Regions from separate parts of the Homo sapiens genome. Here regions 1, 2, 3, 4, 5 and 6 are each reported to be linked to region 7. Evidence: microRNA targets listed by miRTarBase, many of them from high-throughput screens and not tested one by one. Region 7 holds a microRNA gene; each other region holds the end of a gene's coding sequence.
The links. The annotated mature microRNA hsa-miR-548p reads UAGCAAAAACUGCAGUUACUUU and lies in region 7 at 2,859-2,880, opposite strand. An mRNA with a match to its seed (bases 2 to 7 or 8) in the 3' UTR can be bound and repressed. Matches are read on the target gene's strand: a 7mer-m8 pairs with bases 2 to 8, a 7mer-A1 pairs with bases 2 to 7 and ends in A, and an 8mer does both.

Region 1: miRTarBase lists TMEM68 as a target of hsa-miR-548p. Seed matches in the 3' UTR shown: 7mer-m8 at 1,769-1,775.
Region 2: the mRNA of BTN3A3 is a reported target of hsa-miR-548p. The part of its 3' UTR that is shown has no 7-base or 8-base seed match.
Region 3: the mRNA of PXK is a reported target of hsa-miR-548p. Seed matches in the 3' UTR shown: 8mer at 853-860 and 7mer-A1 at 904-910.
Region 4: miRTarBase lists CYB561 as a target of hsa-miR-548p. Seed matches in the 3' UTR shown: 7mer-m8 at 2,285-2,291.
Region 5: miRTarBase lists FOXP2 as a target of hsa-miR-548p. The part of its 3' UTR that is shown has no 7-base or 8-base seed match.
Region 6: the mRNA of ESCO2 is a reported target of hsa-miR-548p. Seed matches in the 3' UTR shown: 7mer-m8 at 1,375-1,381.

The regions. Positions count from the first base shown.
Region 1 is chr8:55,736,919-55,740,996 of GRCh38, reverse strand. TMEM68 (transmembrane protein 68) reads left to right here. Exons shown (of 8, transcript NM_001286657.2): 8 at 779-2,239. The coding sequence ends at 865. Among named protein-coding and RNA genes, the nearest start is that of TMEM68, 34 kb to the left of the region's middle.
Region 2 is chr6:26,451,943-26,456,016 of GRCh38, forward strand. BTN3A3 (butyrophilin subfamily 3 member A3) reads left to right here. Exons shown (of 11, transcript NM_006994.5): 11 at 1-1,473. The coding sequence ends at 469. Among named protein-coding and RNA genes, the nearest start is that of BTN2A1, 4.0 kb to the right of the region's middle.
Region 3 is chr3:58,424,562-58,428,631 of GRCh38, forward strand. It overlaps PXK (PX domain containing serine/threonine kinase like), which reads left to right. Exons shown (of 18, transcript NM_017771.5): 18 at 191-1,566. The coding sequence ends at 399. It overlaps PDHB (pyruvate dehydrogenase E1 subunit beta), which reads right to left. Exons shown (of 10, transcript NM_000925.4): 9 at 3,912-4,053; 10 at 3,069-3,618. The coding sequence ends at 3,473. Among named protein-coding and RNA genes, the nearest start is that of PDHB, 7.2 kb to the right of the region's middle.
Region 4 is chr17:63,431,015-63,435,090 of GRCh38, reverse strand. It overlaps CYB561 (cytochrome b561), which reads left to right. Exons shown (of 6, transcript NM_001915.4): 5 at 1-5; 6 at 497-2,787. The coding sequence ends at 689. Among named protein-coding and RNA genes, the nearest start is that of CYB561, 13 kb to the left of the region's middle. RefSeq lists a silencer at 1-10.
Region 5 is chr7:114,689,280-114,693,359 of GRCh38, forward strand. FOXP2 (forkhead box P2) reads left to right here. Exons shown (of 17, transcript NM_014491.4): 17 at 503-4,080. The coding sequence ends at 647. Among named protein-coding and RNA genes, the nearest start is that of MIR3666, 38 kb to the left of the region's middle. RefSeq lists an enhancer at 1-438.
Region 6 is chr8:27,803,009-27,807,088 of GRCh38, forward strand. It overlaps ESCO2 (establishment of sister chromatid cohesion N-acetyltransferase 2), which reads left to right. Exons shown (of 11, transcript NM_001017420.3): 11 at 298-2,308. The coding sequence ends at 430. Among named protein-coding and RNA genes, the nearest start is that of ESCO2, 30 kb to the left of the region's middle.
Region 7 is chr5:100,813,640-100,817,639 of GRCh38, forward strand. MIR548P (microRNA 548p) reads right to left here and starts at 2,926; the gene lies at 2,843-2,926. The region is part of intron 4 of ST8SIA4 (ST8 alpha-N-acetyl-neuraminide alpha-2,8-sialyltransferase 4); the gene reads right to left.

The DNA.
Region 1 (4,078 bases), not on the chromosome of region 7:
CTCCCAAAGTGCTGGGATTACAGGTGTGAGCCACCACGCCCAGCCAAAGGGGCGTATTTTTATAATACATCTTTGGCCTAGTGTTTATTTTCTTTAAAGGTTAAAGTCTAGAAAAGGAAGTATATATGTATGTAAATACATAGTTCATGATGACTCATGCCTGTAATCCCAGCACTTTGGGAGGCCAAGGCAGGAGGATCCCTTGAGTCCAGGAGTTCGAGACCAGCCTGAGCAACACAGTGAGACCCTGATATAATTGTTCAGTATGTATGGTGATAAAAGAAAATATACATTAGAATTTACTAATAGCTGGAAAGGACTAAGTCTTCCATTTGCCTACTCGAAATTTTTCTATTTTTTTTCCTCTTTAAGTCCCCTTTAGTGTTTATCATGTGCAAGGTGTTGCTGTGCTTAATGCTGGAGAAATTCTAAGATGTATCTTAAGGAGCTTACAGTCTGATATAGAAAATAGACACGTGGACAACAACTATAATTGAAGGCTTAATAAAATAAGTATAAGAAATATGCTGCAGCCAGGCACAGTGGCCCATGCCTGTAATCCCAGCACATTGGAAGGCCAAGGTGGGAGAATTGCTTGAGCCCCAGGAGTTCGAGAACAGCCTGGGAAACATAGTGAAACCCCATCTCTATAAAAAAGAGAAATATATAAGCTTCAGGTGTACTGAGAAGGAAATCATTAATTCTGAGGGGTAATGGGAGATAAATCAGTCTATATTAAGATCTACTAACAATAGCTTTTCTTTTGTTTTCTTAATAGACGAAGAATGCTGTTCAAGCTTTGATTGATAAGCACCAAAGAATACCAGGAAACATTATGAGTGCTTTGTTAGAACGTTTTCATTGATAACAAAGGGTCAACTAGAAGATGATTTAGTACATTTATATTAAATGTTTGTATCTAAGGTACTGTCTTCTGAATTTTGTAGGTCCTATAATTAGTATTTTTTAAAAAAATCATGTTAATAAGCATCTTTCACAGAATTCGTTTCTTTAAAATAGTCAATTTTGTTTTTGCAATTGTGTCAAATACTAACAAATTACACACCTAGTAATTCAGAAAAAGATGTCTTATTTGTAAATTCCTAACAATTTATGCTAAACATATAGATTCTTAAGTTTATTAATAACAGCAGTTTAGGTTAAACAAACATTCCTGGATAATGCGTTAAATTTCTGTATCTGTCGCCCTGAGCTGATTTTGAAAGATGGTATAAGCTAGGGGTTAGTATAGTTGTTTAAGTTAGAAAAAACATGCTGTTGTCTGCCCCTCATTCCCTTCATGACCTTGGGCAAGTCACGTAATGTTTTTGTGCCTCAACAATTCACTTTTTAAAAACATGATCGTATGATGAATGATATTATTTTGTTATTTATATTTACTGTGATTGATAACTGTTGAACCAAAATAATAAAATAATTAATTTAAACAATGTCAAAATCCTTTAGCAGTTATGTATATATTTTCTCCATTGTGTGTTTAAATTATGTCATGTCCAGTTGCCAAGCACAATGAAAAAGATGTATTATTTTTTAAATTGAATAAAAAATTAGGAAAAATAAAATTTCTAATTATTATTTTTAGTATGATATTTTTAACAAGAGTCTATAGGCAAACAATATAGGGTGTGCTGTGCATTGTCAGCCCTATACTGTGGTCTTAATAATGCCAGCTTAAAAATCACTGTTGTGCTCTGCATTTCGTGTGTTAGAAGCTGATTCTAGGCTGAGGAAAGCAAGAGTTCTCTACTTTTGCTCAATATTGAGGCTTACCCAGTTTGACTCTACAGCCAGTGAAGTGGTTTATTGCTTCAATAAAAATATACTTGAATGATGAATTTATTTATGTTTTGTTTTGTTTTTATTTAGAGATGGGGTTTTGCCATGTTGGCCAGGCTGGTCTTGAACTCCTGACCTCAGGTGATCCACCTGCCTCAGCCTCCCAACTTGCTGGGATTACAGGTGTGAGCCACCATGCCCAGCCTGAATGATGAATTTATGTGAACACAAAGCCCTCTGAAAAATTAATGATTTTCAATTTGTTGTCTTCTTGAAAACTGAATTTAAGTATTATTTAAACAGAAAAGTGTCAGAAATCAAATGCAGTATCTCCCTCTCCCTTTTTTAAATGTTGAATTAGTAGGGTTTTTGTATAGCTTTTTGTATTGTGTGTATTTATGATATGTGAAATGTACATAAAATTAAACAATGTGAAAATAAACCTGAGTTGCAGTTAATTTTCTTGAGAAATTACATGTGACATTTTAAAAATCTTTTTTTTTTTTTTTCTGAGATGGAGTCTCGCTGTGTCTGTTTCCCAGGCTGGAGTGCAGTGGCACCATCTTGGCTCACTGCAACCTCCGCCTCCCAGGTTCAAGCAATGCTCCTTCTGTCTTCTGAAGGAGCCTCCTGAGTAGCTGGGATTACATGAGTGTACCACTACACCTGGCTAATTTTTGTGTTTTTAGTAGAGACAGGGTTTTACCATGTTGGCCAGGCTGGTCTTGAACTGCTGACCTCAAGTGATCCGCCCACCTCAGCCTCCCGAAGTGCTGGGATTACAGGTGTGAGCCACTGCGCCCACCCTAAATAGTCATTTTAAATTGATTTTTTTGTTGTACTCTTTACACATTTCTCACCTATAATCATATTCTTTGATCTAGCCACAATGAAGAAACTTCACTTTCCAGTGTAATAAATATATTTTAATTTTGTGGTCAATGAGAAGAGTCAATTAATGATTACTTGCAGTTTCCTCCCCCCACCAGTGAGCAGTGTTTGGTTCAAAATTGATGAAATATTTCAGAATGAATGAATAAATGATATAAAATGAATGAGAAATTTGTTTTGGGTCAACTATTGAGTTTTAAAGACTGAAGTTAGCCAGGAGTGGTGTCATGAACCTGTAGTCCCAGCTACTTGGAAGGCTGAGGCGGGAGAATTGCTTGAGCCCAGGAGTTCGAGGCTGCAGTGAGTCGCAATTGTGCCACTGCACAGCCTGAGTGATAGAGCAAGCCCATGGTTCTATTAATAAAGACTAAAGAAAGAACAGCATTTATTGCTAATGTGGCAAAAGCTATTATTTTTACAATATTTAAGTTTTACTGCTTTAATTAAAACCTTTTTTTAAAACCCTGATATTCAGACTAACATCATTGCTTCAGATCTTTATCTTTGCTATTTGAGTTTAATTCCCATTTATAAGAGTCAGAGAATATGACTAAATATAGAAATATGGCTGGGCATGATGGCACACACCTATAATCCCAGCACTTTGGGAGGATTGCTTGAGGCCAGGAGTTTGAGACCACCTGGACAACATAACAAGACCTCTTATCAAATAAAATTTTTTTGTTTTTAAATTAAGCTGGGTTCAGTGGCTCACACCTGTCATCCTAACACTTTGGGAGGCTGAGGCAACTGGGTCACTTGAGCCCAGGAATTCAAGACCAGCCTGGGTGAAATCCTGTCTCTACAAGAAAACGCACAAAAATCGGCTGGGTATGGTAGTGCACACCTGCAGTTACAGCTACCTGGGAGGCTGAGGTGGAAGGTTGAGCCTGGAGAGGTCAGGGCTGCAGTGAGCCATGATTGTGCCACTGCACTCCAGCCTCAGCAACAGAATGACACCCTGTCTCAAAAAAAAAAAAAAAAAAAAAAATTAAAACAAAAGAAATATAAGTAATGGGAAGAAGGTGTATCAGTTTTTTTTCATAATTTTTCTTTCCCTTCTTATCACTTCTATTCATGTGTCTTGACCCTTTTTTGAGGAGTGTTCACAGTCAGAACCTGATGCAAGTATGAAGAGCCTCTCTCCAGAAGTGTAAACATGGCGCACTTATGGGAAGTTTTTCTTGCTCATTTTTAAAAACTTTCATTCTGAAACAATTCGAAGCTTACAGAAAAGTTGCAATTATAGTGCAGAGTACTCCCATACACTCTTCACCCAGATTCACCAAGGTAACATGTCACATTTGTTTTATTCTTTTCACACTCCTGTTGCCCTCGCTGTCTCCACATATGTATCTATACTTTTTCTCCTAGATCATCTGATAGTAAA
Region 2 (4,074 bases), not on the chromosome of region 7:
CGGATACTGGACTATGGGCCTGACTGATGGGAATAAGTATCGGGCTCTCACTGAGCCCAGAACCAACCTGAAACTTCCTGAGCCTCCTAGGAAAGTGGGGATCTTCCTGGACTATGAGACTGGAGAGATCTCGTTCTATAATGCCACAGATGGATCTCATATCTACACCTTTCCGCACGCCTCTTTCTCTGAGCCTCTATATCCTGTTTTCAGAATTTTGACCTTGGAGCCCACTGCCCTGACCATTTGCCCAATACCAAAAGAAGTAGAGAGTTCCCCCGATCCTGACCTAGTGCCTGATCATTCCCTGGAGACACCACTGACCCCGGGCTTAGCTAATGAAAGTGGGGAGCCTCAGGCTGAAGTAACATCTCTGCTTCTCCCTGCCCACCCTGGAGCTGAGGTCTCCCCTTCTGCAACAACCAATCAGAACCATAAGCTACAGGCACGCACTGAAGCACTTTACTGATATTCATTCCATTATTCCATATGACAGTTGTTTTGAGTTTCGTACCACCTTATTGTCCCCTTATACAGATAAGGAAACTGGGGTGCAGAAAGGTGAATTAACTTTACAAAGTAGACATGACAAGTGAACAGCAGAGCTGGGATCTAAACAGCAATAACTAACATTAACAGAGAATTTAAAATGTTCTTAGTGCTGTGTTATAAGCTTTGGTGGATGTCACTCCTTTAATCCTCACAACACCCTGTCGGGTAGTCATATTTTGCAAGTATGGAAGCTGAGGCAGGGCAACATGAAGTAACTTACATAACTCATACAGTAATTTGTGCAGTTGGGAGATGTTCAGCCTTAGTCCCTGGCTAATTGCCTGTTCTTTTCCAGCCTGATTTTTTTTCCCACAGGAAGAGCCCACATGTAGCCCTGAGGTTTCCTTCCCAGGACAGCTGCAGGGTAGAGATCATTTTAAGTGCTTGTGGAGTTGACATCCCTATTGACTCTTTCCCAGCTGATATCAGAGACTTAGACCCAGCACTCCTTGGATTAGCTCTGCAGAGTGTCTTGGTTGAGAGAATAACCTCATAGTACCAACATGACATGTGACTTGGAAAGAGACTAGAGGCCACACTTGATAAATCATGGGGCACAGATATGTTCCCACCCAACAAATGTGATAAGTGATTGTGCAGCCAGAGCCAGCCTTCCTTCAATCAAGGTTTCCAGGCAGAGCAAATACCCTAGAGATTCTCTGTGATATAGGAAATTTGGATCAAGGAAGCTAAAAGAATTACAGGGATGTTTTTAATCCCACTATGGACTCAGTCTCCTGGAAATAGGTCTGTCCACTCCTGGTCATTGGTGGATGTTAAACCCATATTCCTTTCAACTGCTGCCTGCTAGGGAAAACTGCTCCTCATTATCATCACTATTATTGCTCACCACTGTATCCCCTCTACTTGGCAAGTGGTTGTCAAGTTCTAGTTGTTCAATAAATGTGTTAATAATGCTTACTCCTCAGCTTGGCTTTTTCTAGACTGTGGTGTCTACTCAGCACAGTAGTCTGCACACCCACTGTACTCACCACAGTCTCAGTTTACCTCACTGCAGCATTTTCACAAGACCCTTATTGGATGCATTTTCTGTTGTTGCCATCTGAATTACCAGAAATGTATAGACATTTTTTTTTTTTTGAGATTGGATTGTGCCACTGTACTCCCAGGCTGGAGTACAGTGGCACGATCTCAGCTCACTGCAACCTCCACCTCCCAGGTTGAAGTGATTCTCCTGCCTCAGCCTTCCGAGTAGCTGGGACTACAGGTGCGTGCCACCACGCCTGGCTAATTTTTTGTGTTTTCAGTGCAGACGAGGTTTCACCATGTTGTCCAGGATGGTCTCGATCTACTGACCTTGTGATCCACCCACCTCGGCCTCCCAAAGTGCTGGGATTACAGGTATGAGCCACCGCGCCTGGCTTCAGAAATTCATGAACTTAAAGCAACACAAATTTATTATCTCACTGTTCTGTAGGTGAGAAGTCAGAAGTCCCACAGGGATCTCACCAGGCTAGAATCAAGGTGTCTGCAGGCTGGATTCCTTTCTGGAGTCTCTAAGGAAGAATCTGTTTCCTTGCTTATTCAGACTATTGGCAGAATCAGTTCCTTTCATTTATAGGACTGACGTCCCAGTTGTTCCCTGGTTTTTAGCTAAGGGCTGTACCCACTTCTAGAGGCTGCCACACTCTGGCTCCTAGCTCCCTTCCTGTATCTTCAAAGCAGCAACAGCGCATTGAGGCTCATCTCCTAGGTCTTTTTCTCCATTGTGTCTCTCTGATTCTTTTACCTTCTCCTTTTTTTCCTTCCTTTCTTTTTTTTTTTTTTTTCTTCTTTGACAAGGACTCGCTCTGTCACCCAGGCTGAAGTGCAGTGGCGTGATCTCAGCTCACCACATTGTCCCCTGGGCTCAAGCAATCCACCCATCTTAGCTTCTCAAGCAGCTGGGAGCACAGAGCCACATCACCATGCCTGGGTATTTTCTTGTAGAGACAGGGTCTTGCCATGTTGCCCAGGCTGGTCTCAAACTCCTGAGCTCAAGCAATCTGCCCACCTTGGTCTCCCAAAGTGCTGGGATTATAGGCATGAGCCACCACGCTCAGTCTGCCTTTTACTTTTAAAGACTCCTATGATTAAACTGAGATCACCCAGACAATTTAGAATAATCTCTCTATTTTAAGGTCCATAACCTTAATTCTGTGTAAAATTCATTTTACTGTGTTATACATTCTTTTCATAACTTTCATAGTGAATATAGCTCAAAGGGTGGGTGCGGGGAGCACTATTCAGCTCACCACACTGATTTGGGAAGTGATTCCAGGAAACACAAGTGCAGAAACAAATTGAGAAATGAAAAAAAGCCAATTACATGACAAATGGGATAAAGGGTTCACTCATGAGTCAGTTACCATGTGGATAACTTGGCTGAATCCCTTTTAGGACTCTCTAAGAAACCATATGAAATGTGTGATATAGCTCAGAATCTTCCTAAGGACTACAGGGCCTGGGACTTTATCTCCACTTCCCATCCTCCTTTGCTTGAATTGGTTGAAGGTTGGCCTGGGAGTGTTAATTCTAATGCACTTTAAGATTGGGCTATGTAACTGCAGAAAAGCAACTATCACGGGTGTGATAAAGCTCACAGGCAAAGGAGAAGGGAGATACTCACTGGAGGTGGAAAGGTTGTCATCCTTGCAGAAAACTGTGCCTCAGCTATTGGCAAACTGTGATAGGCCAAGAGAATATGGGATGGGGCATCAACAGCGTCTGTTATAAGGGCTCTGCCTCTGAGAATATAGTGAATGCCTTTCAAGGTCTCTCTGCCCTCGCTGTACCACATTTAGCATTAGTGACCTCTTCTCTTCCAATACATGCCCACATCACATGGCCCTGCAGCCTCACCACATGGACTGGGTCTGGGATGGACACCTGACCCAGGCTAGGCCAGAGGACCAAGTGACATGTGGCTAGTTACTCCTGTAGCAGATGTGCATGGGAGCTGTGGGAAGAAATGCTCCATTCATGGTGTGGACTAAACAATGGTGGATTGCAGAGAAGACCAAAGCAGATGAGCAGAGAGAAGGCTACAAGATGGAAAGAGTTTAGGCAAATTTCTCACGTTTGGTTCTTTTAGAAGCCCAGTATCATTTCTTCTTTTTGAAAAAATGTGTTCTTTTGAGGCAAGATAAATGTACTCGTTAATATTGCTTGTAGTCCTAATATTCAGAAGCTTATGCAACTATTATAATATGTTCAGTGATTCTGTGAGTCAGGAATCTAGAATTTGAACAGGGCAGAGTAGGAATGGATTTTCTGTATGTCAACATGTCTAGGCCTCCCCTGGGAGTACTCCATAGCTGGAGATGACACAGCTATATTACCTTCACAGACTGTAGTTTATTGTAAAGCAAAAGGAAATCAATGCTTACCCTGTATCCTGGTTCTTCCAGGGTTGGCAGGTCCATAAAGAACCTTGCCAACGTGACCCTTCCTGTCTCTATCCCTCCCACTACAGAGCATGATTGGGTTAGGTTGTTACTATCTAACCGGGCACACCCCAGT
Region 3 (4,070 bases), not on the chromosome of region 7:
ACTTTTAATTCCCCTTTGATGCTTCTAGCTTTCTTTAGTATTTTAAGAACTCATACAGTACTAGGTATGTTGGTCCCTCTGAGAAAAACATGTGGACTCTCACCAGTCCGTTGTGCTCAGGACTGAGCAGCAGCGTGTGTGCAGGGCAGCTGTGGAGGTGAATACTGATTGTCCCCCTTTTCCTCCACAGGGATATCTGCATTACCTCCACCTCCTCCACCTCCACCACCACCAGCAGCTCCCTTGCCTCCTGCGAGCACCGAGGCACCTGCCCAGCTCTCGTCTCAGGCTGTGAATGGCATGAGCCGAGGGGCCTTGCTCAGCTCCATCCAGAATTTCCAAAAAGGAACTTTGAGGAAAGCCAAAACCTGTGATCACAGTGCTCCGAAGATCGGCTGAAGCTTCCTGTTTACACTTGGAGGGAAAAGTTCTTTTTTATTCCTACTCACCCCTACCCCCCAAACTACCCTCTTCCTGGGAAAGTAATTGCTGAGCCAGTACAGCCACAAACAGTACTATTTTGCAGATGCTCATGTAAGCAGCTTTTCGAGAGAAATAATTCTTTAAGCAGAATAAAGTTAGGCTGGCATTGCTCCCTTAAGATCTTGCTCCTTTATTAACCCTGTAAAGGAGTCTTGTTTATCCTCTAATGGCCAGGCTTTTGGGACAGCAGCATATTGAAATATTTTCACCAACTAAAGGAAATAGACAGAAAAACAATGACAATATTCAATCACAGCAGTAAATGGCCTTTGTGTTGCAATCCCTTCTACCCCATCAGACAGCTCCTAGAAACATTCCTCTTACAGTTCATTTCTCTAAAGCATTTTCTGATTCTTAGATAACTCCAATTTTTGCTACCTTTATCTTAGACATTAACACTATAGCCCAAAGCATAGTTACTTTGCTAAATCAGAAAGCAACTGAGTTCTTTGTTTTCTCCTCAAATAGAATGGGGAACGTTCACAACATTCTCTTAAGTTCTAACAGGAATACCATTGTGGTTATAGAACTCAGGGCTGCTAAAGCAACTACTCTAGACCCATAGTTCTTTTTAGTTAGATGTATTGAAACAGACAAAAATATTAACATCAGAAAAAGCTCTTGCCAATTAGAGGATCTTCTTAATCCTCAGCAATTAAGTTTGGGGTTTGAGGGGGGCAGGTCATTGTTACAACAGAAGTAAATTTGGCATCTATAGAAATCAATTATGATTTTTGAAAGATTTATCTAAATATATCAATATAGCATCTCTTTAATGTTAGTCATTTATTAGAAAGATCCTTTATCCTGATTTGCTTAAACCTTTCAATAAATTGCACTTTAAAGGATTATAAATAATCCATTTAAAAATTCAAGTACACACATCAGTGTTGGTTACTATGCAGAGAATGTCATTGTGTATAGTTTCATGTAATCTGTTATGTCAGCTGTATTTTTTATTAAAATCATGTCAAGAAAACGTGTTGTCTGTAGCTTGACAAGATATTTCAAATGAGAACTTTTTGTAGCGTCTGTTGTTAGCAAAGAATAGATTCACACAGTCTAAGGTTTCCTTCCTACCTATCCTGTCTCTTATTCTTTTGTGTCTCACTTTTCCTCTAAGAACTAAAAATCCTGCCTTGCTACTTAAATTAGGTACCACCTATATGCTTCTCTAACTAATTTAAACCCATCTTTTCCATCTCAGCTTCTGGAGGGCAGTATTTGACAGAATATCTGATCTTTGGAAATGGGAAAAACAACTGATATAAACTTTGCCATAATTTTAAAGAGAATGCTATTAGAATTAGGCATTTGGAGAGTCTGTGGAGAAGTTCCTGTTTCAAGTGTGATGCAACCTAGGTGATTACCTGATGGAGGCTTGTGAGGCCTGAGTCCTTCTGAAGTCAGTTTTGCTGACTATTCTGGATAGTTCAGATATATGAATACAAACAGGTAATGGTCTTGTACAGTATCAGCTTATTTTCCACATGGAACTAATTTCTTTTGTTGTTATTTTTAAGACAGGGTTTCGCTCTTTCACTCAGGCTGGAGTGCAGTGACCCAATCACAGCTCACTGCAGCCTTGACCTCCCAGGGCTCAAGCAATCCTCCTATAGGCACACCACCAGATACCTGGGTTTTTTGTTTTGTTTTTTTTGTTTTGTTTTTGTAGGCAGGGTTTTTGCAACGTTGCCCCAGGCTGGTCTCAAACTCCTGGGCTCAAGCAATCCCTGCCTCAGCCTCCCAAAGTGCTGGGATTATAGGCATGAGCTACTGTGGCCTGGCAGCACTAATTTCTTAATAAATAGAATTTCAAGTTTTCTACCCACATTGACTTTTTTTTTTTCTATCTATCTTTTCTTTGTAGAGATGGGGTTTTGCCATGTTCCCCAGGCTGGTCCTGAACTCCTACACTCAAGGGATCCACCCACCTCGGCCTCCCAAAGTGCTAGGATTACATGTCTGAGCCACCACACCCAGCCAATTCTTTTTTTTGAGACGGAGTCTTGCTCTGTTGTCCAGGCTGGAGTACAGTGGCGCCATCTCTGCTCACTGCAACCTCCGCCTCCTGGGTTCAAGCAATTATCCTGCCTCAGCCTCCCGAGCAGCTGGGTCTACAGGCGCATGCCACCATGCCCGGCTTTAGTAGACAGGGTTTCACCATGTTAGCCAGGATGGTCTTGATCTCCTGACATCATGTTCTGCCCGCCTTGGCCTCCCAAAGTACTGGGATTACAGGCATGAGCCACCACGCCCAGCCCAGCCAATTCTTTCAATATAAAAATACAATAGTCATGGCCAGGTGTGGTGGCTCATGCCTGTAATCCCAGCAGTTTGGGAGGGCCAAGGCAGGTGGATCACCTGAGGTCAGGTGTTCAAGACCAGCCTGGCCAACATGGTGAAACCCCACCTCTACTAAAAACACCAAAATTAGCCGGATGTGGTGGCTAATTTCCTACTGAGGCTGAGGCAGGAGAATCACTTGAACCTGGGAGGTGGAGGCTGCAGTGAGCCAAGATTGTGCCATCACACTCCAGCTTGGGGAACAGAGCCAAACATTGTCTCAAAAAAAAAAAAATTAGTCATGTTAGAAATTCCTTTATTCCTTATCAAAACAAACTAACAGTAAATGTATATTATATGCTTTAATTTTATACATATAAGTTATCTTGTTTGGATACATCTTTCATGAGGACTCTGCCACATCCATACTTTGTCCTTGTGGTGAGAGAGGATAAAATGTTATATAATTTGTTATTCAAAGAACATGGCAACCGTAACAGACAAAAGGAAGCATGGCATCTAGGGGAGGAGAGTGGAGAGTTTTCCATACACAAACACATTTAAACTTCCCTGTACAAAAATACCTGCTGTTGCTTTAGAAATCGTTTTCCGTTATGAATAGTCAGGTCTTGCAGTACAAATCCAGGTGCAGTGCCAGCAAGTATTTCAAATAAATTTCAACGACTTGATATTCAAGTCCAAACTAAATATTTAATGTTTTCTTTATTGCAAATATGATGTCTTTGACCTGAGGTATAGAGTTGTCCTCTAGAATCTTTGCATAAGGCATAGGGACATCAGCACCAGTGACACGAACAGCAGGAGCATCCAGGAAATTGAACGCAGGACCTAGGAGAAGGAAGGCTCAACTGAGAGAGTGCAAATGCCAGCTGGGCACTACCACCTTGGCACAGAGGTGTGGCTGACCAGGAAGAGAAAATGTAAGGAATGCTAATTATGGGGAACCGCTTTCTGGATTTGCTTTTAAAAATATCTGCCTGAAGAGAAATGCCAAACTTACAAGTTTAAAGTTGAAGTCGTTTGGCCACTCCTAGCTTTCAATCTCTTTATCCTGTACGTATTCAGGTACATGATGTTTACTATAGCTTGACTGTATTCTAGAACCAGTTTCTTTGAAATACCTTCCATGATCCTGGCACAGATTTCAGCTCCTACTCCAAACTGTGGCCAGCCTCCTTCCACAGTTACAAGATGATTTGTCTTCATGACACTGGCTTCTATGGTTTCCATGTCCATTGGTCTAATGGTACGCATATTTATCACCTAAACAGGTAATATAA
Region 4 (4,076 bases), not on the chromosome of region 7:
CTCGGGTGAGTGTCCTGGGTGGGAGAGGGCAGGGCCTGGGCCACCCTTGCACAGACCTCACCCTGCCTTCAGCTTCCCCAGCTGTGGCTTCCTGAGCCGCCTCTCGTGGCGTCACAACTGGTGGCTGTAGTTATGCTTGCTAAGATTTGGGTGCTTGGGGCTTGGCTTTGGTTAGCTTTCTTGATTTTACCCTTTCAAAGAAACTTCTGGGCTATGGGCACCCTATTTATTCCCACCACGCAGCAGGATCTGCAGGACAACTGCTTAGAGCTAGAATATTGATCTAGGTTTTTACATTGCCCATCTCTTTTTGTCTGTGAGCCATAGCTGGAGATTGCTGGTTGGGGGCGGGGGGATGGTTGTTCTCTTCAGGCAGGGCAGGGAGGCAGGGGCTGGTGCTGGAATCCCCATGGCATCTTTAAGGCCCAGGATACAAAGGGCATTTGGCCTAATTGTGACCCCTTGGGCAGCTTCTCCCTTCCTCTCACCCCTGCAGGGGCAAGTATAGCGCATTTGAGCCCGAGGGTGTCCTGGCCAACGTGCTGGGCCTGCTGCTGGCCTGCTTCGGTGGGGCGGTGCTCTACATCTTGACCCGGGCCGACTGGAAGCGGCCTTCCCAGGCGGAAGAGCAGGCCCTCTCCATGGACTTCAAGACGCTGACGGAGGGAGATAGCCCCGGCTCCCAGTGATGCGCCCGGCCGGCCCTGGGGGTTCGCGGGGTGTCTTCTTGCCTGCCCCTGCTGAGGCGTCTTCAGGACTGCAGGCTCCGGAGAGTGGCTCTGGCAGCAGGCGGGCGCGTGGGTGCAGCTGCATCTGTTTGAGTGCTGCTTTCTGGGGTCAGGTCTCCGCCTCCTCTGCTTCTCCTTTCTCCGCTGCTATAGACCAGTTCATTGTGTGTGGCTCCCGTGTCTCTGTTGCCCCCTTCAGTGCAGAAGGCTTTGGGTAGGACTTCGGGTGTTCGGTCCTGGTCGCAGAGCACAGATCTTTAAAGAAGCGAGAGAGGAGGCCCCACCCTCCTGGCAGCAGATGCCTGGGGCAAGGCCAGGGGAAACTGGGGGGGCCTCAGGGACAGGCCTGGAAAGGCCACGATGGCTGCTGAATTCAAACAAGGAGTCCCTCCAGCCTGAATAACACGTGGCACAAATGGGCCCGGCCTTTGGCAGAGGAGCAAGTGATATGATGTGTAAAGTATGTTGGTGGTGAAAGCAAGGTTCCCCAGGAGAGGGGAGGGACTGGCCCCTGGGAAGCTCTGAGATGAGGCTGTGGCCCAGCTGTAGTCCTGACCTTCCTCTTCTTTAACCCTTTAGCCCTAGGATGGCTTTGGTGGGAGAGGGGATAGAAGCCCATGACTTCAGACAGACTTTCTCTTGGCAGATGCAGGCGGGCCTCCTCCCAGGCTGCTCCAGACATGGGGGTTGGGGATGGGGGGCACCTTGCAGCCCCTTCCTGCTGGGGCTCCCTCCTTGTAGCACCCCCCTTGCGGCTCAGCTCTGGTTTCCTCTCCCAGGCTCACCCAGGCTCTGCTCAGGCTGGGAGGCAGAGGGCACAAACCTTATAATTTTTTAAATGAAAAACCGCTGCTGCTGGCTGTGGCTAGAGCCCCCTGGGGCTGCTGGAGCTGCTGCCTCTGTTCTGGAGGACGAGCCTTCTCCTTATCTGCTGCCCATCTTTCCAGGAAGTCAGGATGGAGTCAGAACAACTACAGTCATCCCCCGTGGTGTCTGCACATCACTCCAGCCCCATAAAGAGTGTCATGTTAGCTGAGTCACCATTTGGCTTCGGCCTGGAAATAGTGTGATTAGAACACTGATCGTGTGCGAGGCCAGGAGATCAAGACCATCCTGACTAACAAACACAGTGAAACCCCGTCTCTACTAAAAATACAAAAAAATTAGCCAGGCGTGGTGGTGGGCGCCTGTAGTCCCAGCTACTTGGGAGGCTGAGGCAGGAGAATGGTGTGAACCCGGGAGATGGCGCTTGCAGTGAGCTGAGATTGCACTCCAGCCTGGGCGACAGGCTCAAAAAAGAAAAAAAAAAGAACACCGATCATGTGCTTCTTGGATCTGGTGACTGTTCTCTCCCTGTTTTCCTTTCTTTTTGGGTGTTTGAGGAGCATGGCTTAGCTTGAGACACACACAGACACTGTGTACTTCAGTGAAGGGCTTAATATACAGTTTCCAAACCTGACGACTCTTCTTCTTGTAATGGCTGCCCTTTTCCTACCTGAGGCCGTCTTAGAGAAAGGGGCCAGTCTCCTCTAATGCTCAGATTTCCCATAGTTGGCTTTTGCTGTGTCTCCTGCCTCAGGCAGTGTCATTTCTGGGAGCAGGTGGTTGTAGTCCAGGCCCCTCCCCAGCAGGGTCTGCCCAGGCTCCTTCGAGCCCCTTTCCCCGCCTCCTCTCAGCCTGTCCGGATGACAGTGTTCGCCTCCTGTTTAGACTGTACACTCTTCAGGGGTAGGGGTGCCGTCAGTTCTTCAATCAGCTGGCACACACTTGTATAGTGAAATGTTTACATGTGGGAAAACTCCGCCTTAGACAAACTACCAAAGTACAATCGTGTCTCTCTCTAGCCGGAATGCTACAGAGAGAAATGGAACCTTAGATTTGCAACAAAAGTCTGTAAACTGGTCTGTTTGCCAAAGTGAACACTGGATGACTAAGGAGCTGAAGAAGGCCCCCAGAAGCGGATTTGTGGTGGGTTATTTTATTTTGCCTGTGGCCAATCTTCTGTGAAATACAATGTGCTGTTGGTGCAACAGATGATTCAATAAATGTCTACAGCAGACCTCTCGCCTGTTATCTTCCTTTACTGTGGTAATAAAAGGAGCCGGAGCTTTTAGCAGCCAGACACATGACGTTAGCTCTAGGCCTGAGAGAAATTGAATATCCGCAGGCTGGGCACAGAAGGTAAAGCGATTAGTGATATTGATCATGGCCTAGGGGCTGAAAAGGCCCAGCGGTTGTCCAGTCTCGACCCAGCAGAGGCAGTGTTGTTTCCACATGGTTAGATAAGCCCTTTCCTCTCAGCCTGAGAGGGTGGCCTGGATGGTGGAGCTGCAAGAGCCTGATAAGAGCCTTGGCAAGGAAGGTCCCCCAGTGTTTAATGGACCCCTTTCCCTTTGAAATCAGTCTTTTTGATCCTTAAGAAGAGGAGCAAAGCTTTTGGAACGAGCTGAGATTCCACTTTAGATCCACGTACGTGGCTCAGGCAGAAGGTGAGTTTTTGGCAAATTTGGGTGGGATCGTACTGTGCGCTTTGTGCCTTGTCACTTAAAGCAGTGGCCGCCAACCTTTTTGGCAGCAGGAACAGGTTTTGTGGAAGACAATTTTTCCACAGACCAGGGCTGGGGGTGGGGGATAGTTTTGGGATGATTCAAGCACGTTACATTTATTATGCATTTTTATATTATTACATTGTAACATATAATGAAATAATTATACAACTTACCATAATGTAGAATCAATGGGAGCCCTGAGCTTGTTTTCCTGAAACTAGACAGTCTCATCTGGGGGTGATGGGAGACAGTGACAGATCATTCGATTCTCCTAAGGAGCATGCAACCTAGATCCCTCGCATGCGTAGTTCATAATTAATAGGGTCTGCACTCCTATGAGAATCTAATGCTGCAGCTGATCTGACAGGAGGCGGAGCTCAGGTGGTCATGCTCACCCGCTGCTGCTCACCTCCTACTGTGCAGCCAGGTTCTAACAGCCACAGACCCATACTGGTCTGTGGCCCTGGGGCTGGGGACCTCTGACTTACTTAAAGCAATTTAAAAACTCACCAGAGCTCACTATTTAAAGGGACCCAACAGCAAATCCTCTAATAAGGTAACAGGAGTCCCTGCTTCCCCGCGTTGGTCTCAACTTTGTCTTCTGCATTGTAGCTGGTCTCTAACGTGTAGGAGCCAGAACGGAGAGGTCTTTCCTTAGGGCACCTGTAGAGTCCCTCCTGAATCAAGGCTTCCATGTGGACCTTTATTTTTATTTTATTTTTTTGAGACGGAGTTTCGCTCTTGTTGCCCAGGCTGGAGTGCAATGGCGCAATCTCAGCTCACTGCAACCTCCGCCTCC
Region 5 (4,080 bases), not on the chromosome of region 7:
ATTTGTTTCAACAAACACCCAATCTAGCTTATACTGGAGAGTTTAAAAAAAAATAGAAATAAAATTGTTAAACTCAAGTCTGAAATATTTAGAAATAACAGTTGTTATCTTAATTGCTAGCAAAAAACTGAATGGTAAAAGTGTTTTCATTTGTTGATTAATTATTTGTTTACTATTCCTTTACTACCACTCCTTGATTATCATGTTATAACAAATACTAACAAAACATTTCATTCAGAAAGAATGCTGAGAAACGGATGTTTTACCTAAACAGCACAGCATGTGGGAGTCCATGCTCACATTACTCTGAATCCCTGCCTCCACAGTTCTACTGTAAAGTATCATGTCTCTAACCAGCTCACGCAATCAATCAGATGCCCTTTTAAGAAAGACAATGTTGTGTCTTCTTGCCTTTTTTCAGTTGACCTCTTCACTGCAAAGTTGGCCAAACTCTGTTTGTTGCTTACTTAGTAAAATTTTGGTGTATCTACATGTTTTTCAGACATTCAATCCACGTCAAGGAAGAGCCAGTGATTGCAGAGGATGAAGACTGCCCAATGTCCTTAGTGACAACAGCTAATCACAGTCCAGAATTAGAAGACGACAGAGAGATTGAAGAAGAGCCTTTATCTGAAGATCTGGAATGAGAACTGACTTGTGAAACCTCAGCGTGAAGGGACATATCACTGACCTTCATAACCACTCCACAACCATGAATATTTGACAAATTTTTACTGTGACTATTTATTAAGCATGGATAAAGGAGACAGCCCTAAAGGAACTTACTAAGCCAGCCCTTTGGGATTCAGTACCAACAGGCAAATTGCTTGTTTTCTTCTTCTTCTTCTTCTTTTTTTTTTTTTTTTTAGAAAAAAAGACAAAAACTGATTTTCTTGAAAAAAAAAAATGAACTGTTCTTTCTATAATGGCTTTGCCCATTTAAAAAATGTGGCTCTTAAGGGTTCATGAAATGACTGAATATGAGGATACATGTCCTGTAGAAAGCAAATGCGCCTCATATACTGCCAAAAATAGTGTTAGTTTCATTAATGTGAATTTTCCAGCATTCAGTAGTTGTAATGTTAGAAACAATTGCTGGTCAAGTTCAACTTGTTGCTATTGTTTTTAATTTGCACAGGAGTAGTATCAGAAATTAGTGTCACTGCTTGTATCTAGCTGAATTTTAAACAACAGAACATTAGTTTTTTATGTTGGTGCCACCAACTGTAAATGACATAAGTTAGTTATTACAAAACACAGTAATTAGACTGTTGCAACCATCTAAAACCTTAGGCTTCCAGTCTGTGCTGTTAGTGTTAAGATGTAAAGTGCAATCCTAAGCTAACATTATCTGTGCAAGCACCATAGAAACATTTGCATATCTGCATAGATCTTACAACTGTACTCTTTACCTCCTTGTGATAAAGCTTTGTCTACCTGCAAACACAGTCAAAGGCTACAGCTGCAAACCAAAGCCAACTCTAACCATGGCCAAGAGCTCAAGGACAGAAGCAGCCACATGCTTTGGTCAGCCTTCTGTAACTTCAATTAGTACAAAGGAACCTTTTCCATGAACTACCTGCTGTTTTCTGATGACCTCTGGGATCTTTTCATTTAGCCCTAAACAAAGAAACAAATATGACAAAAACCACAACTAAAAAATGTTAATTCAGTCACAGAGTAATCTTCTGAGGCCAAAAGTCCATCTAAATGCAATGAAGATTTGCTTTCATTAAAGACAGAGGTGAGGACAAAATCCGCAGTGGAAGTTATGATATGCTAGAAAGCAACAAATGTGGATCACTGACCAAAACGATTATGTACTTGATGCAAATGCAGATTGCATATTGTTATATATATAGTACTTTGTGTTTTTGTTTTCCCTCATTCAGTCAGTTATTTTCAGTGGTGAATACATGTTGTTAGAAGATGTCTTGTATGGTCTTAATCTTTGTTGTGTACTATTTTTTTATAGTCTTAAGTTATAATGAAAAAACAAAAAGTAGGAACCAAACATAAAAGGTCTAGTAAAGCCAAAAATTAATTTCATATTGATTTTAAAGTGATCTAGCTGAGTTTTTACACTGAAAGCAAAGATTATAGCAATTGTAGTCCATGGTATTTATTTTCAGTCAAACCAAAGTTACATATAATTCTGCCTCTGCTTATACGGGATATTAACACTAACAATACACTCCCTTCAAAGACTTGCACAGGCCAAATTGTTGGAATGCTGGTTTTCTTGACAATTCCAAACCCCAAAACTATGATAATGAGTTATGATGTAGTTGAAAATAGCATAGTCAGATGTTTGCTTAAAACCTAGAAACTTAACATGTTGCTTTTCATGTGCTGTGCCAAGTCTTGATAATACTTTTTCCCCCAACCAAGGGACCTCATAACCTGATTATGGTTATTGCTTTACAAACAGTTTTGACAGAAGGTGGCTGCTAGAGCTTAACATACGTTCCCGTTCCATGTGATGGAACCGGTTCTTGCAAACTAAGCTCATCATTGATTCTTTGCTGAAGTCAGCAAATAGAGTTAGAGAGATACCCAGTCATCTATCACACCAAATAAAAGGACATAACGGCTTTCAAAAGGGTTTTCCCACTTACCCAAAAGGCTTTCTGAAAGCTTCTACCTCTGCAAAAAAAAAAAAAGAAAAAAAAAAAAAGAAAAACATTAGAACAATTATGGCAGATTGCATGAAACGTGAGAACGTCACAGTAACTGCTACTTTTCATTATGTTTGTCTTTGGGTCATGATCAACGAACCGGAAGTTTACAATATGGTATTAAAAGAAAGATGGGTATGGTGAAAGATGGTTTTCAGTCATCTAGGATCCTACTGTAAGGATTATCTGAAAGGAAAAATGGGTCTTTCAGGTGCATGTTCAAAAGGCTTTGAGGGACTGGAAGTAACTGCGAGAGTTGTACCATCAGAAGGGTGGCCTAAGACTACAATGCTAAAGTATGCATACCTCAGTTAGAAAACTTTTGAAAGGAAGTCTCAGCCACAGAATGCATATACCTGTAGAGTTTTGCATGGGTTTTATATGAATACAATTTTAAAAAATAGCTGCTTGCACATTATACCAGAAAAACCTCCAAAACTGCAATTGCTTTGAAAATAGATTTTAGGTTTTTTGGAGTTTCCTGAAATGCTTGGTCTGTATTTTGATAATTGTGCATATTATGTAAAAATGTTGGTGGACCCATAAATGACCAGACTTTTTCTAAGAAAAATGTTGCTTTAATGCATTTCATGAATTTTTACTCTTATATCATTGCTTGCTAGTAATAGCAAATCTGCTTTTCTGCATCTGCTTTGCGTAGCTATTGTAAGGCTTTGAACTAATGTATGTATTTATTGCTTGAACTTCTGTGCATACCTTATAAAGCATAATGTCTGACAATTTAAATGGCTCATGTATTCTTGCTTCTATCATAAGCTGATTATGGGGACTATGATCTTTTGTATACAGCAAATTTTAAACTGTAGCACAAACATCTGTTTATGTATTGGTGGAATATACCTGTTTTATTTATCTTTTTTGAGGTAAACTAATTTTTGATACTTTTCATTACTGTGTACTATGTTCATACTTTGAATTCTCTGACGTTAGAAGTCATGGTTGAGAATTGTAACAGCTGTTATTCGTTCTGTATTCATGGCTTTCACTGCTGAATAAAATAAAGGACCAAACCTAGGATTTGAAAGAAAACTGTCTACCTCTAACACCAGGGAGTTATCAGATTTTATTTTACATAGTTTTAGTCTACAAAGACACAATTGCTTAAACCTAGTGGGCTTAAGGCTTATATTCTATGTGGTTGGATTCGTGGCACAGTTGTACTATTTGAAAATCAATTAAAATTTTATGTGAATGTTACAAGTATTTGGTAGAATTACCACTAACTGGGTTTTCTTTAGATAACTCAGATATGGAGAAAATGTCATCAGCATTCTGTGTCTACAGCTGCTTAACTTCATAAGAATGCATTTCTTTGTGATTAGGGAATCGAAGAATAGTCAGCTAGGAATAGAGCTACAGAAGTACACTTACATAAACCATC
Region 6 (4,080 bases), not on the chromosome of region 7:
AGGCGTGTGCCACTGCGCCTGGCCTAGCAATATGATCTTATATTAGTTGCTCTTTACCATGGATATCCTAGAGTTAGGTGGATGGTTCCCTTTGCCTCTCATCAGAATTTTTTCTGGACCTTAGTTTTCCCATCTGTGAAATGATATCATTAGACTTCTGTCTCTAAAATATAAGGCATTTTTTCACTTACTAAAAATAAGGTTGATTTAAGTCAAGAGTATTTACTTAAATTGTGCTCATGTTAATTAGAATGTTAAGTTGCTTCCATCATTAAATCATCTTTTCTTCTCTTTTAGGAATTGCTTCATGTTTGGCTGTTTTCTCAGCACTGATGAAATAGCATTTTCTGACCCAACACCAGATGGCAAGTTATTTGCAACCAAGTACTGCAACACCCCTAATTTCCTCGTATATAATTTTAATAGTTAAAGCTGATTTCAGTTATAAAGGAGTTACTATCTGGATAAGTTCAAAGAGCTCCTTATTATAAAATACAAACTATTTAATATCAAAATAAAAAATACCGAGACTCACACTCATACACACACACACACACACGCACACACACATATCACAGTTTTGTTCCTTATGAGTTGAAAAGTCAGGAATAAATTTGTTGAAAATTATCTGGGGATTCAAAGGAAAAATCTTTGGGTGATTCCCTGATTAGCACTCTGAATGTTTAATTATGAAACTTTGTAGCTATAACTGGAAAATTACCTGACTCTTTGTAAGAGTATTAAATACAAAGTGATTTTTCTCTAGAAATGTGACCTGGTCTTTTATAAAGCCCACTCTTAGACCAGGATTATCTAATGCCACATCAGAAGCAAACAGGCAAATTTAAACTTGGGCAAGTAATTTCTGTGCCCAATTTGTAAAGGGAATTCCTGAATTTTTTTTTTTTTTTAATAGAGGCATGGGTCTCACTGTGTTGCCCAGGCTGGTCTGAAACTTTTGGGCTCAAGCGATCCTCCCAAAACGCTGGGATTACAGTCATGAGCCACCGTGCCCAGCCTAATTCCTGACTTCTCTATACAGAGTCTTCACTTGATAGGCACTCGTCTGTAGTAACTCAGTTTGAATATCTTTAGAAAATGTTTAGAATTTATTTGTAACAAGATGGTAAGGAATAAGATTATCCCATATGCATTTCTGTAGAGCAGAATTTGATAGCTTAGTGTTCAATCTTTTTGAAAATAAATGTTTACCTGTCATCAGATTTAATTAAAATTATACTTAGTAATTGCACTATTACTTAGTTAATTTTTGTTGTATGGAAATATTGGTAGTACTACTTTGGGAACCTGTTACTGACAATTGATGTCATTAACAAAATGCCTAGTTGGATTAGATGTTTTCATTTTCTAATTTTTTGCTTGTTTAAAATGCACCTTACTTGTTCTGAGATACCTGGCAAAAGTCTTTACAAAATGTATGGTAATAGAACCAAGGTTAGTAAATATACATAGGCTGGTGGATGAGAGACCATGGAACTGTGTAAATACACTTAAATGTTCACACATTTTTCTAGTGTAATTCTTGGATACTTTAAAAAGCAAAACATTGTTCAAATTGTTTTGATTCTGAAAAATCATTCAACTGCTAACTGGCAATAAGACTCTAGGCAAGTCGTTTTCCAGATTGTAATTATATGTAGAAACTATTCATCTGCATTCATTTTATTTGCCTGTAAGTTAACATGTTTCCAAAATTTAAAAGCCTGGGTCCCCAAAAGAATGTGGAAGTATTAAAATGTATGTAATTATGCAAACATTTTAATGCTATTTTCTGCACTTATTTCTTTTAAATATTTTATTTAAAATTTTTAATTAACATTTTGTTTGCTTAATGCTTTTGTTATGAATCAATTAAAATTCTTTATTTTATACAACTAAATCTGATTTTAATTATTTTATTATGAAAATAGTATATGTTAAATAAAATTCAGATAATACAGAAATAGAGATTGCCAAAAGAAGAGGCTTCCCGGCCGGGCGCGGTGGCTCACGCCTGTAATCCCAGCACTTTGGGAGGCCGAGGCGGGTGGATCATGAGGTCAGGAGATCGAGACCATCCTGGCTAACAAGGTGAAACCCCGTCTCTACTAAAAATACAAAAAATTAGCCGGGCGCGGTGGCGGGCGCCTGTAGTCCCAGCTACTCGGGAGGCTGAGGCAGGAGAATGGCGTGAACCCGGGAGGCGAGCTTGCAGTGAGCCGAGATTGCGCCACTGCAGTCCGCAGTCCGGCCTGGGCGACAGAGCGAGACTCCGTCTCAAAAAAAAAAAAAAAAAAAAAAAAAAAAAAGAAGAGGCTTCCCTTAATCCTGCTTTGAGTTTAGTGCTTATTACTTTAGAATAACTAAATACATATGCAGTTATTTTGCATCTTGCCTCACTTCAGTATGTCTTAGATATGTTGTATTTCAAGAACTATTTCTATTTTAAATATTTAGCATGATTTGCTATTGATACTGTTGTCTTGGTTGGGTGTTTTTTGTTTGTTTGTTTGTTTTGTTTTTAAGTATAACACATACAAGAAGCAAGTGCACTGAGATGGTCTCAAAGCAATGATACCCTAATGGCAATGAGCACACCTACCACCCAGATCTTGGTTGGTTTCTTTCTTTTTTTCCCCCGCCCTGGGCTGAAGTGCAGTGGTACAAACACGGCTCACTGCAGCCTCGACCTCCCAGGTTCAAGTGATCTTCCCGCCTGAGCTCCCTAAGTAGCTGGGACTACAGGTGTGTGTCACCACGTCTGCTTAATTTTTGTATTCTTTTTTTAGTAGAGACAGAGTGTCACCATGGTGCCCAGCCAGTCCTTAAGCTCCTGAGGCCCTTGAGCTCCTGAGCTGAAGTGATCCTCCCACTTCAGCCTCCCAAAGTGCTGGATTATAGGTGTGAGCCACGGCACCCAGCCAGATCTTGCTTACTAATACCTTCTTCCACAAAAGGACCTGGGGCTCTTTGGAGAAATGGCTCATTCTAGGGATAGGGCAATGAATGTACAAGATGAGCCTAGATCACCTTGTACATCCCCCCTTATCTGCAATTTCGCTTCCCACAGTTTGTTACCAAAAATATTGCATGGAAATTTCTAGAAGTAAGGAATTCATAAGTTTTAAATTGCCCACCATTCAGAGTAGCCACAGTGGGGTGATAAGTGCTCAGTTAAGATGGAAAAGGCATTAAATTTGTGGGCAGAAGACATGCACAGAAACATATTCCTATTGAGGGCAATCAGGTTGAGTACTGTCCATGGTTTCAGGCATTCTACTGGGGGTCTTTGTCATAAATTGTGCCAATATATGTGTATGTCTATTTCTGCCTGTGTATTCTTACTAATTTTATATAGGTTCTATTTATGCTAATACCAGACTGTGTTAATTATAGTATCAATGTTTGCTATAGTATTAGTACATGGTCCCACTTTTTTTCTTCGGTCTATTATTGGACTTTGCATTTCCATATACATTTTAGAATCAATTTATTCCACAAAAAGCTACCAACAACAAAAAAGCCTGTTGGGATTTTATTGGAATTGTGTCAGATCTATAGATCAATTTGGGAGGACTGATTTTTAGACTTGCTCAAGTATTGGATACTTTCTTTTTTTTTTTTTTTTTAGACGGAGTTTTGCTCTTGTTGCCCAGGCTGGAGTGCATTGGCACTATCTTGGCTCACTGCAACCTCCACCTCCCGGGTTCAAGCTATTGTCTGCCTCAGCCTCCAGTAGCTGGGATTCCAGGTGCATGCCACCACGCCCAGCTAATTTTGTATTTTTAGTAGAGACGGGGTTTTACCATGTTGGCCAGGCTGGTCTTTAACTCTTGACCTCCAATAATCCACCCACTTCAGCCTCCCAAAGTCCTGGGATTATAGGCATGAGCCAGTATGCCCAGCTGTTACTTTTTTTTAAGCCATTGGGAAAAGTGTTTTAAGTTACATCTTGTTTGCTGATATATAAACTACAAGTTTTCTGTTTTGACTTTGTATTCACAATCTTTCTAAACTTAATTAATTCTAATTTATCTATTTCTATCTACATAATATCTGTGAATGAGTTTTCTTTTAGAA
Region 7 (4,000 bases):
AACTTCTTTGAAGGCTTTGAAGAAACTATGATGTGGCCTGAAGCTCTCTGGGCTCTGAGAAAACAAGTGTTTTTTAACATGAAATAATGATTATAAGAAAGTATTGTGAATGTGATTTATGTGAAAGTATTGTGAATATGTATGGTTGCAGAGGTTAGGTGATAGAGTTGGTTAGTTAAAAAAAAACTATCTATTTATAAATTTTTAAAGTAAGCCAAGCAAATTCAAAATCAGTCAAAAAGAAAACAGTATTTCCATTAGGCAAAGTCAATGATTAGGAACAATTTGGCAGTATGAAGGTCATGCTGAATTATTTCTAAAGTGAGAAAAATGCTGCTATATTACTTGTATGAAACTCCAGACTTCTTACTATCAACAAATGCTTTCCATTTCCTAATTCTGGAGAGGTTTCCTCGAGGTTCATGTAACTATGGTTGCTCATTGACAAATACCAAAGCAATTTCTACATGCAATACAAATAAGTAACTACAACGTTAGAAATGCTGAAAGCAAAATTATTGGCTTTAAAATGGTGTCAGAGACGTGAAATCACTCCAAATTTTTTGATACAGGACATCTTATGAGACACCACAAATAGAATATCACTGAAGTGTCTTGAAAATGAAACTGTGATTGCAAAGCATCTTATTTGAAAATAATGAGTAGAGTGACTTTAAAAACTTTTTGTGGTCTTGTTCTAAATAAATTAATCTATGCAGTTAAAATACTGAATTAATTTAGCTTTAGAAATGCTAACAGAAAAATAAATTTTGTGATATTTGATTTGCAACAGTTTGAATAATTTCAAAGAAAAATATACCGTCAATATTTCAGGACATTTTTGAAGAAACAACACAAAATAAATGCCACTTATCCTATTGATTTCTAAAAAGTGTCACAGAAAGATACACCTTAATAAATGGCATCAATATGTAACAGATAAGTTGAAAAATACCTTAAATCAGGTCACTAAGTAGGCAATAAGTAATAACTTTCTAAAAATTTAAAAACACAGAACTGATCAAATACAGTCAATAAGACTGTATTTTGTGTTTATTATCAACCTAATGTTGTGTTTGAAATTGTATAGGCCAATCTAAATTATTGCAATTCGGTATTAAACCAGTAACAAATTCCACATGTGAAAAGGACAAGAATAGATCTTCTTTTTAATTCTGTCAGCATAATTGGTTAGATAATATTTATCAGCATCAAAAGCTAGAGCCCAGACTACAATTTTGAAATCCATACCTGAATGTATCTACCTATACACAATTTGATATTTGAAAACTGCAAATTTTTATGGAGTCTATCAAAAATAGAATATTAACTTGTGTTTCATCCTCATTAGGAAAAATATTAAATTGAAAATAATGCATTGATAAAATAATGGAATATTCACACTGTTTCAGTATAACATGTTCCAGCTTTTATCCCAACTGTACATGTTATGGTTTAAAATTTAGCAAAATTTTACATTCAAACAATAATTTAGTTTATATACATGTATTTCTTTCTATGTAAATTGATTTTTTTGAGTTACCAAATCCATGTAAGCTCCTTGTAGAAAATTTGAAGGAAAAAAAATCTAAGAAAAACATTACCTATAATCCATCCACATAAGGATAATTACTGCTATAACATGCAACATCCTTTTGCTTCTCTGGCTGATTTGGATCTTAATATATGTTACATTCACATATAGACATATACAAATTATTTTTCATCAGAGAGGTTATGTTTTATTTTTAATATTATTAATTTCCTTTCATCCTTCCTTTCTTCCTTCCTTCCTTCCTTCCTTCCCTCCTTTCTTCCTTCTTTCCTTCCCTTTTGTTTTATTATTATACTTTCTTCTGTTGTATGAAACATTCACTCTGGACTTTATGTGTTAATAGAACATTTATAACTTTTTAATAAATTTGATAGCCTCTGTAGATCTCACTACTCTCTCACATACAAAACAGAGCATGAAAGCTCTGTTTTGGCTAAGTGAGGTGTCTTATATACTCTTGCTCCAAAATATTAGTTCAATTTCTTACTTCAAACAAACTGAAAATTTGGAATGTCTCTACCCACCAAATCAGTGTGCTATAGAAGGCTATATTTATAGTCAGAAGACACAGCTTTGTATCTGTGATATGTTTATAAGTACTTGAGAAAGCTGCTTCACTTCTTTGGAGCCCAGTTAACAATATTTAACAAGAAAGGTTGTAATGCTGTAAAAGAGACAGTAAAGGTAAAAGAACATAAAGCTTGACATATAATAAGCAATACTACTTGGCTCTCAACATATCCCAAAACAATCATTCTTCAGTCCCACTCACAAACCCACTTCTCTCTTGGAACCTTCTGTGACTACTTATTGGCTGGACAATTGTGGTAACGTCGTTTAACCTCAATGGACATGTTTCCTTAATTCTGAAACAAACATTTAATTCTATGGCTTTGGGGTTTCCTCTATAAAATTCAATTGCAGTTTCAAATCTTCTCTCTCCGTGAAATTGTGTGAAACACTCTTATTCCTTGTCTCCTTCCTCCTCACCATTTTGTTCCCTTTCCTTCCTTCAGGTTGTAACACATTGCAAAGAAAAGAAGGTACCTAATAAATGCTTATTGATTTTAAATCCTGTAATATTTTAGATTTTATCTCATAATAAAAGCAGATAATAATCACCCGATGAGTCAAAATACCTGATTATTTCAAGCAACCACAGTTTTAGGAACAAAAATGTTATATTTAACAACGTTGATACTAAGGAGAGCTCACATTCAATATATTGACAAACAAGGAATATTGGTTTGTGTTTATATTTAAATAAAGAAGTCTAAAAGTTTAGAAGTATTACATTGGTGCAAAAGTAACTGCAGTTTTTGCTATTGAAAGTAATGACAAAAACTGCAATTAATTTTATACCAACCTAATAATGATAGTTTTTTCTCTTAAAATGTTATTCTTCTTCCAAAAATCAAATGTGACAATTTCTAGAAGAATTTGAATATCAAGGATGGAATCTCACTGTGCCAACAGTTGTAATTTAATGTTATATTATAAGCAAAGTTTCCATTAATGAGCCCAGAAATTCTTCTATCTGGAATGTGAGATGAAGTGTATAACAAAATATACCTTTGTATTCTTAATTAAGGAGTCTCCTCTATTTCTCCTCTCATATTTGTCTTCCAGTAACTGAGATTTGTGCTGCATTCCACTGGAAGTCTATGTCAAGGGTTAAAAAAATGTCTTTTGGTTCTTCCAGTCTGCAGTAATTTGAGATATTATAAAATAATTGGCTTTTTTTCTTTTTTTTTTTTTGAGACAGAGTCTCACTCTGTCGCTGTGTCACCCAGGCTGGAGTGCAATGGCGCAATCTTGGCTCACTGCAATCTCTGCCTCCCGGGTTGAAACTATTCTCCTGCTTAAGCCTCCCAAGTAGCTGGGATTACAGGCGCCCACTACAACACCCAGCTAATTTTTTTTTTTTTTTTTTTTTTTTTTTTTTTGTATTTTTGGTAGAGACTGGGTTTCACCATGTTGGCCAGGCTGGTCTCAAACTCCTGATCTCGTGATCCACCTGCCTCTGCATCCCAAAGTGCTAGGATTACAGGCATGAGCCACCGTGCCCAGCCAGATAATTGGCTTTCTATTAGTAATCTTTGCAGGACATATCTGCACATTCTCAACTCTAGAGTCACCCCAGAAACCTAATAGAGACCATTTATGATGACCTTATTTTTCCCATCAAAAATCACAGTATGGAGCAATAAATAAATGTATGTTTTTTGAGATTCCATCATTCACATTTGTCAATATGTCCATTCATTCTTATGAGGAGTATATGTGTGTCAGCTACATAACATGAAACTTAAAGCAGTCATCCGTGGACATATTGAAATAGAATATCTGCTGTTTTCTTCCCTACTGTTAAAATAGTCCTTTCATTGTATTCTAGTCTGCAGTATATTACATAAAGCACAAACAAGTTAATTCTGTTTTGAAATT